Linked DNA regions of Homo sapiens. The protein of the gene in region 2 purifies or fractionates together with the protein of the main gene of each other region. This does not show direct contact. Each region holds a gene or a part of one and is shown on either strand. Other genes may lie near its edges.

Region 1 (3,513 bases), about 120 Mb from region 2:
ATAGTTGAGAATCATACTCTAAGGTTAGAATGACTTGGAACAACTTTATAGGTGTTACAGACTACTTGTGATTTGCTTATAGGAGAAAAGTTTCCTTTGATTTATTATCTAACTTTTATTTCTCTTTTAACAAAAAAAGTTAGTCCCCTTTTCATGAAGAGCTGTATTCCTTGTCTGTTAAGAATTAGACCTAATTTCAAAAATTTACCATAACCTCAGTGGCACTTTTAAAATGTATATTTATGTTATGCAATCTCAAGAGCATCTATTTACATTTGAAAAATAAAAGTGCATATTCAGTCTGTAAAAAATGTTAGATGTGCCGCTCCATTAGTGAACACTTTAATAACTTAGTCTTTTGAGGAACAGGTTGTCCTCATCACGAAAACCTTTGTGTATCTCATAGGAGTACATGGAGAAAAGCCAGATAAAAGTGAAAGGAGAGTTACTATTAAATAACAAATAAGAAACTCAGGGCATAGCATTCTGAGAGGCTGTTTTTTGTTGTTGTTGTTGTTGTTGGGGCATATAACTCTAGATACCCTCACTATGCCCTAAAATCTTATGTTACGGGATAGTATATATAGAAAACAGATGTGAAACATGGGGAAGCAGGAGGGGAAAAATGAACATTGACATCTATAAAACTCCCACACAGTGCATGAATGTTAATGTTAACATGCAGAGACAAATTCCAGTGTTTAACAAACATGCTACAGTGACTTGGAAGTTTAACTTTATTTAATCATCTTGTCAGTGAAGAGAGTTAGCATATATAATTCTTCTTACCAAGGAATCTTCATGTTCCTTTGTATTGAGAATTTTCTTCTACTTTGTCACCCAGTTTTTTCTTCTTCTATGTCTTCTTTCAGACAAGACCTTGAGCAAGTAAGTGGCAATGGAATTTAAAGTAAAATGAATTGAGGGGCATATTAAAATTACTAGAGTTGAAAGGAAGATTAGTAGGTTTAATGTTTATAAATATTTTTAACAGAAGTCTGTCAATTTTAGTTTGCATTTGGGTACTACTTTCTGAATTATAAGTGGTCTTAAAAAGCCTTGTCGTTTGGAAACTTAAATACATTTTGAATTTAATGAGAGAACATGATTTATTTTTGAACTACATAAAAATAAAATATTCCAGCTTCCAGCATTAAGGTAATTATGTTCAAGATGGATGTTTTACATAGGCAGTCAATTCCACACTTAACAGAAAGTCATCATAGACTATGAATTAAGATCAGGAAAAAACTTATTTCATACCAGGAGGCAAGAATCAACAGCAACTAGTAGCTTTTTGGAATTACAAATGTGTTTCCTGCATTCTAAGGAAACACTAGAATACCTATGTTTTCAATAGAGGTTAGGTATCAATTGGACTGCTTGGAAACAAAAACACAATTTTTATAATGATTTCTTTTGAAAAAATGAGTTAAGAAATTTTTAAGATTTTTAATATTTTGGACCACAACATAGCTGGAGCTGTAACAACTTCAAAGTTAAGGACCATGTCTGTTTTATTCTCTATTTGCTTTGTATTCTGTATGATACTTAACATGGTATCTTTCATACAGTAAATGTATAAGTGATGCTTCCTGAAGAAAGAAAGGATTTTAACAGTACTTCTGAAAATAATCTGTTAATAGAGTGTATTATTGTCACTTTATGACCTTCCTGCTGAAAATCTTTAGAAACCAAATATAATTTTGCAAGTCCAGGCACCAATTGTTTTAAAATTAAGACAATAGGAGTATACATATTCTTGTCTGTGATTGGGACAACTTGTAAGCCTAATTGAAATTTTCTTTAGACTTCAGTTTTATAAGTGAAACATTTAAATGTCTGTTTTGACTAACATTACAAGCTTTGACCACATTGTTAAAAGTAATAGCTGAAACTAAGTGCTTGTGTGTGCTAAGCTAGGCTCTGTTTAAACACTTATTATGTACTAGGCATTGCTCTAATTGGTTTACATGTATTAACTCATTTAATCCTCACAAAAGCCCTGTGAAGGGAGATGCAAGCTGAAGAGCCAAATAGGAAATCCAAAGGTCTCATTTATTAATGGCATTTTATGAGTGTCATAGCATTTATTTAAACATAGAGTTGTCATTGGTAATAGAAAGTTAAACAGAAACCCAACTCATGAATCTGAAAATGATCCATTAATAATATATAGTATTGTCCGAAGCCTCCCAGCTGCTGGGAACATTGGGAAGGCATGATATTTGTCTTCAATAAACCATTTTCTTTGTCAGGTTCACCAGCTTATTTTCCTTTCCCCTATAAACATATTCCCCTTGCTTTTGCCCTTGATTTAATAAACATAAAAAGATAACATTTAGATCCATTCACAAGAAACTGTATATGTAATATTTTGATGGAAACATATCTCTTTGGGGAGTGTAATGCGGTAGAAAGTAGACATTTAGTAAAGAGTAAAGAGTAATAAAGGTAATCTCTCAGGAAGTGTAATATTTATCACTTGGACTTTTTTCCTTTTAGTTTTGATTACGAAGATGCAGGCTACCAGACTGCAGAACTTGTAAAAATGGATATTCTACTGAATGGAAATACTGTAGAGGAGCTAGTAACTGTTGTACACAAGTAAGTTCAATAGAAACTAATCATGGAATGTGAAAATACTTTTGATATGTTTTTCATTTATTTTTGTTTGAGCAGCTGCATTTAAAAAACTTCTAAGGTAATTAAAATAGAGTTCACCCTACTAACTTTGCTTTCTCTTTTTTTTCCACACTTCTCTCTAGACTGCTAAAAATAGAACAGAGCTATAATAGTCAAAAAGAACAGTGTCATAGAAATGTTTCCCTTCACCATATTAAAAAAAGTTTTAAACATTTTATAATGATGGATTTAGAATTGGGAACAAGTTTTTTTGTTTTGTTTTGTTTTTTTTTTAGATGGGAGTCTCATTCTGTTGCCAGGCTGGAGTGCAGTGGCGCAATTTCTGCTCACTGCAACCTCCGCCTCCCGGGTTCAAGCAATTCTCCTGCCTCAGCCTCCTGAGTAGCTGGGACTACAAGCGCATGCTACCATGCCCGGCTAATTTTTGTATTTTTAGTAGAGATGGGGTTTCACCATATTGGCCAGGATGGTCTCGATCTCTTGACCTCTGATCTGCCCGCCTCGGCCTCCCAAAGTGCTGGATTTACAGGCGTAAGCCACCGCGCCCTTTTATATTTGTAAAAAAATTATAAAAAGGAAAACCCCCACGTGTTCAAGAAACAGCAGATTGGTTAAAATGAATTACAAAGCACCCATATTGTTATTTTCAGCCATTAAAACTTGTGGAGTAATATTTAGTGACATAAAAATGTCTGTTAAATATAAAGAGGGTAGAATATATCGTAAACACTGATCATACAAAAAAATGCAAAAAAGTGATTAGAAAGATAACTGTTTAAAATAATCATTCCAAAATGTTTAACCGTTTTCAGCGGGTAAGGAAAGAGAATCAAGAACAGTTTCTATTGTCTAATGTTGTATTTCTAA
Region 2 (4,030 bases):
TTCACGCCATTCTCCTGCCTCAGCCTCCCGAGTAGCTGGGACTACAGGTGCCCATCACCACGCCCAGCTAATTTTTTTGTATTTTTAGTAGACACGGGGTTTCACCGTGTTAGCCAGGATGGTCTCGAACTCCTGACCTTGTGATCCGCCTGCCTCGGCCTCCCAAAGTGCTGGGATTACAGGTGTGAGCCACAGCACCCGGCCCACAAATTTAGTTTTTTAAAGTAAGTAACTTTGTCTTAAAAATGATTTGTAGTAATAGTCATTAAAAGATAAACTGAGGCACATTAAAATATTAAAGCATTTATTTGACCATTCAGTGATTCATGAATCTGGTAGCTCCTGATAAAGGAGCCAAGGAGAAGGCTTTTATAGGGTGAATTTGGAAGCAAAGGAAAGATATTTGATTGGTTAAAGTGGAGTACTAGACTTATTTGGGTCATCCCAGTGGAAAGTCCCCAGTTAGAAGTTAGCTGGCAGTTTCTGATTGATTAAGCTTAAATTTCCTTTTTATCATTTACACTGATTTGGGTTTCCTTTCCTTAGGTAGGAACTCATGGAGCTGAAGCTACCTCAGCCTACTGGCCTTCTAATTATTTCAACACAGAAATAGTACTTTACGGCACACTGGAGTTGCAATTCTATTCTGCAATTGGGTGGTTTCAGATTTGTTCTTCCTATAAATTTTGGTCAAATTAGTCATTGCATTTCTTTCTATAAGTCTGAGATTCAGATATTTGGTTGCTCTGAGAAAGTCTCTGTTGAGATAGCATTGCCATACTGGTCAGATTGAAAGTGACTTTGTATCCTTTCTATTAATGTTCTGATATGAAAGAGTGATGACTCGGATATAGTGTTAATGCATTAAAAAAGCACAGCCTGACAAATCGCTTCCTATAATACACAGAAAAATGTCTAGTCTTGAATTTATAACACAGGGAAAGGTAAAAAATTTAATTATGCTTCCTAATGTTGAACATGCACGTGACAAAGTAAATACTAAAAATCCATTCAGCTGGGCGTGGACAGGGAGAGGGAACGGTGCACATCAGAGGGTGCAGGCTACTCCAACGTTTCCGTTTCCTCAGTCTCGCGGGAAGCTCCGTTGTGGGCGCCCCGGCTGGTGGCTGAGCTCAGGCCTTCAGGCAGAGGGGAGGCGAGGGCGGGGCGGTCACGTGAGAGCACTGCCGCGGTGGGTTGTGGGGGTGCTGCGGCGCCGTTTGCTTTGCCAAACCGACAAAAGAGAGATGATGGCCAACGACGCCAAGCCCGACGTGAAGACCGTGCAGGTGCTGCGGGACACAGCCAACCGCCTGCGGATCCATTCCATCAGGGCCACGTGTGCCTCTGGTTCTGGCCAGCTCACGTCGTGCTGCAGTGCAGCGGAGGTCGTGTCTGTCCTCTTCTTCCACACGATGAAGTATAAACAGACAGACCCAGAACACCCGGACAACGACCGGTTCATCCTCTCCAGGGGACATGCTGCTCCTATCCTCTATGCTGCTTGGGTGGAGGTGGGTGACATCAGTGAATCTGACTTGCTGAACCTGAGGAAACTTCACAGCGACTTGGAGAGACACCCTACCCCCCGATTGCCGTTTGTTGACGTGGCAACAGGGTCCCTAGGTCAGGGATTAGGTACTGCATGTGGAATGGCTTATACTGGCAAGTACCTTGACAAGGCCAGCTACCGGGTGTTCTGCCTTATGGGAGATGGCGAATCCTCAGAAGGCTCTGTGTGGGAGGCTTTTGCTTTTGCCTCCCACTACAACTTGGACAATCTCGTGGCGGTCTTCGACGTGAACCGCTTGGGACAAAGTGGCCCTGCACCCCTTGAGCATGGCGCAGACATCTACCAGAATTGCTGTGAAGCCTTTGGATGGAATACTTACTTAGTGGATGGCCATGATGTGGAGGCCTTGTGCCAAGCATTTTGGCAAGCAAGTCAAGTGAAGAACAAGCCTACTGCTATAGTTGCCAAGACCTTCAAAGGTCGGGGTATTCCAAATATTGAGGATGCAGAAAATTGGCATGGAAAGCCAGTGCCAAAAGAAAGAGCAGATGCAATTGTCAAATTAATTGAGAGTCAGATACAGACCAATGAGAATCTCATACCAAAATCGCCTGTGGAAGACTCACCTCAAATAAGCATCACAGATATAAAAATGACCTCCCCACCTGCTTACAAAGTTGGTGACAAGATAGCTACTCAGAAAACATATGGTTTGGCTCTGGCTAAACTGGGCCGTGCAAATGAAAGAGTTATTGTTCTGAGTGGTGACACGATGAACTCCACCTTTTCTGAGATATTCAGGAAAGAACACCCTGAGCGTTTCATAGAGTGTATTATTGCTGAACAAAACATGGTAAGTGTGGCACTAGGCTGTGCTACACGTGGTCGAACCATTGCTTTTGCTGGTGCTTTTGCTGCCTTTTTTACTAGAGCATTCGATCAGCTCCGAATGGGAGCCATTTCTCAAGCCAATATCAACCTTATTGGTTCCCACTGTGGGGTATCCACTGGAGAAGATGGAGTCTCCCAGATGGCCCTGGAGGATCTAGCCATGTTCCGAAGCATTCCCAATTGTACTGTTTTCTATCCAAGTGATGCCATCTCGACAGAGCATGCTATTTATCTAGCCGCCAATACCAAGGGAATGTGCTTCATTCGAACCAGCCAACCAGAAACTGCAGTTATTTATACCCCACAAGAAAATTTTGAGATTGGCCAGGCCAAGGTGGTCCGCCACGGTGTCAATGATAAAGTCACAGTAATTGGAGCTGGAGTTACTCTCCATGAAGCCTTAGAAGCTGCTGACCATCTTTCTCAACAAGGTATTTCTGTCCGTGTCATCGACCCATTTACCATTAAACCCCTGGATGCCGCCACCATCATCTCCAGTGCAAAAGCCACAGGCGGCCGAGTTATCACAGTGGAGGATCACTACAGGGAAGGTGGCATTGGAGAAGCTGTTTGTGCAGCTGTCTCCAGGGAGCCTGATATCCTTGTTCATCAACTGGCAGTGTCAGGAGTGCCTCAACGTGGGAAAACTAGTGAATTGCTGGATATGTTTGGAATCAGTACCAGACACATTATAGCAGCCGTAACACTTACTTTAATGAAGTAAACTAGGCTTATTTCTAAAAAGTCAAGTCTATTGGCTTTGGCCCAAAAGCACTGGTATCTTTGTATTAAATTCATGTTTATTGTCACAAAACCATTATTTATACCTATACAGTTGTACTGTTTCTTTTAAAGCAAAGCCATTTAACATCTTTCTTCATTCCTAATTTGGAAATTAAAGTTTACCTTTCTGTTAATCTATGTATAAATGTTACTCTGAGTTATTAATGTGGATTTTAAAATTGTAAGCAATAGAATAGGAAATAAAACAACTACCTAATACAAATATTTCTGATAAGACTACAAATATCTGACTGAGCTGGGGATTAAAGTAGAGGTAACTGTATCTTAAATGAGTATGATTTCCTTGTAAGTTAAAAAAATTGAAATTTAATTGTAGACTTCAATAGTCCAAGTTTTGAAGGATGTTTGAGCTTTTGTATAATGCCATTTATACCTGCAGTTTTACAGATAATGTTTGACTGCAGTTGCCTTGGAAATTCCTCCAAAGTTTGCCTTCATCTCTCCTCTACAGTTTGGAGGTGATGGTGCAGCAGTGGAACATCTCTTGATGCACCACACTACTTGTGTTCTGTGAAGTGATGAAAGTATAACTGGTTCTAGTTTGCACACTACACACATAGTTTTGTGAAGCTTCAGAAATGTTTTTTCTTTTCCTTGTGGCCAAACCAGTTTGTTAATCTGATTATATTCATCTGCTAATGATACTAAAGTTAATGTAATAAAGCATTTAAAAATCAGATACTTCAGTCTGTGCTGTGTATGTGGGATTTGATTTCTTCCTGATGAAATCCTAAATAAGGAGAACTTGTGTCTAAATAAGAAACAGAGAGAGTCATGACCCCCAGAAGCAAACCTGGAAAAAGGTTGAAGCTGGAGATAAGT

The links.
Region 1: the proteins of TKTL2 (region 2) and GUF1 purify together in Homo sapiens (co-immunoprecipitation; one large-scale study listed by IntAct). This does not show direct contact.

Annotation. Positions count from the first base shown.
Region 1 is NC_000004.12:44,691,907-44,695,419, forward strand, and holds part of GUF1 (translation factor GUF1, mitochondrial), read left to right. Parts: intron 1-2,505; coding exon 2,506-2,607; intron 2,608-3,513. UniProt on the Homo sapiens protein: Promotes mitochondrial protein synthesis. May act as a fidelity factor of the translation reaction, by catalyzing a one-codon backward translocation of tRNAs on improperly translocated ribosomes. Binds to mitochondrial ribosomes in a GTP-dependent manner.
Region 2 is NC_000004.12:163,470,952-163,474,981, reverse strand, and holds TKTL2 (transketolase-like protein 2), read left to right. Parts: upstream 1-1,227; 5' UTR 1,228-1,247; coding exon 1,248-3,128; 3' UTR 3,129-3,887; downstream 3,888-4,030. UniProt on the Homo sapiens protein: Plays an essential role in total transketolase activity and cell proliferation in cancer cells; after transfection with anti-TKTL1 siRNA, total transketolase activity dramatically decreases and proliferation was significantly inhibited in cancer cells.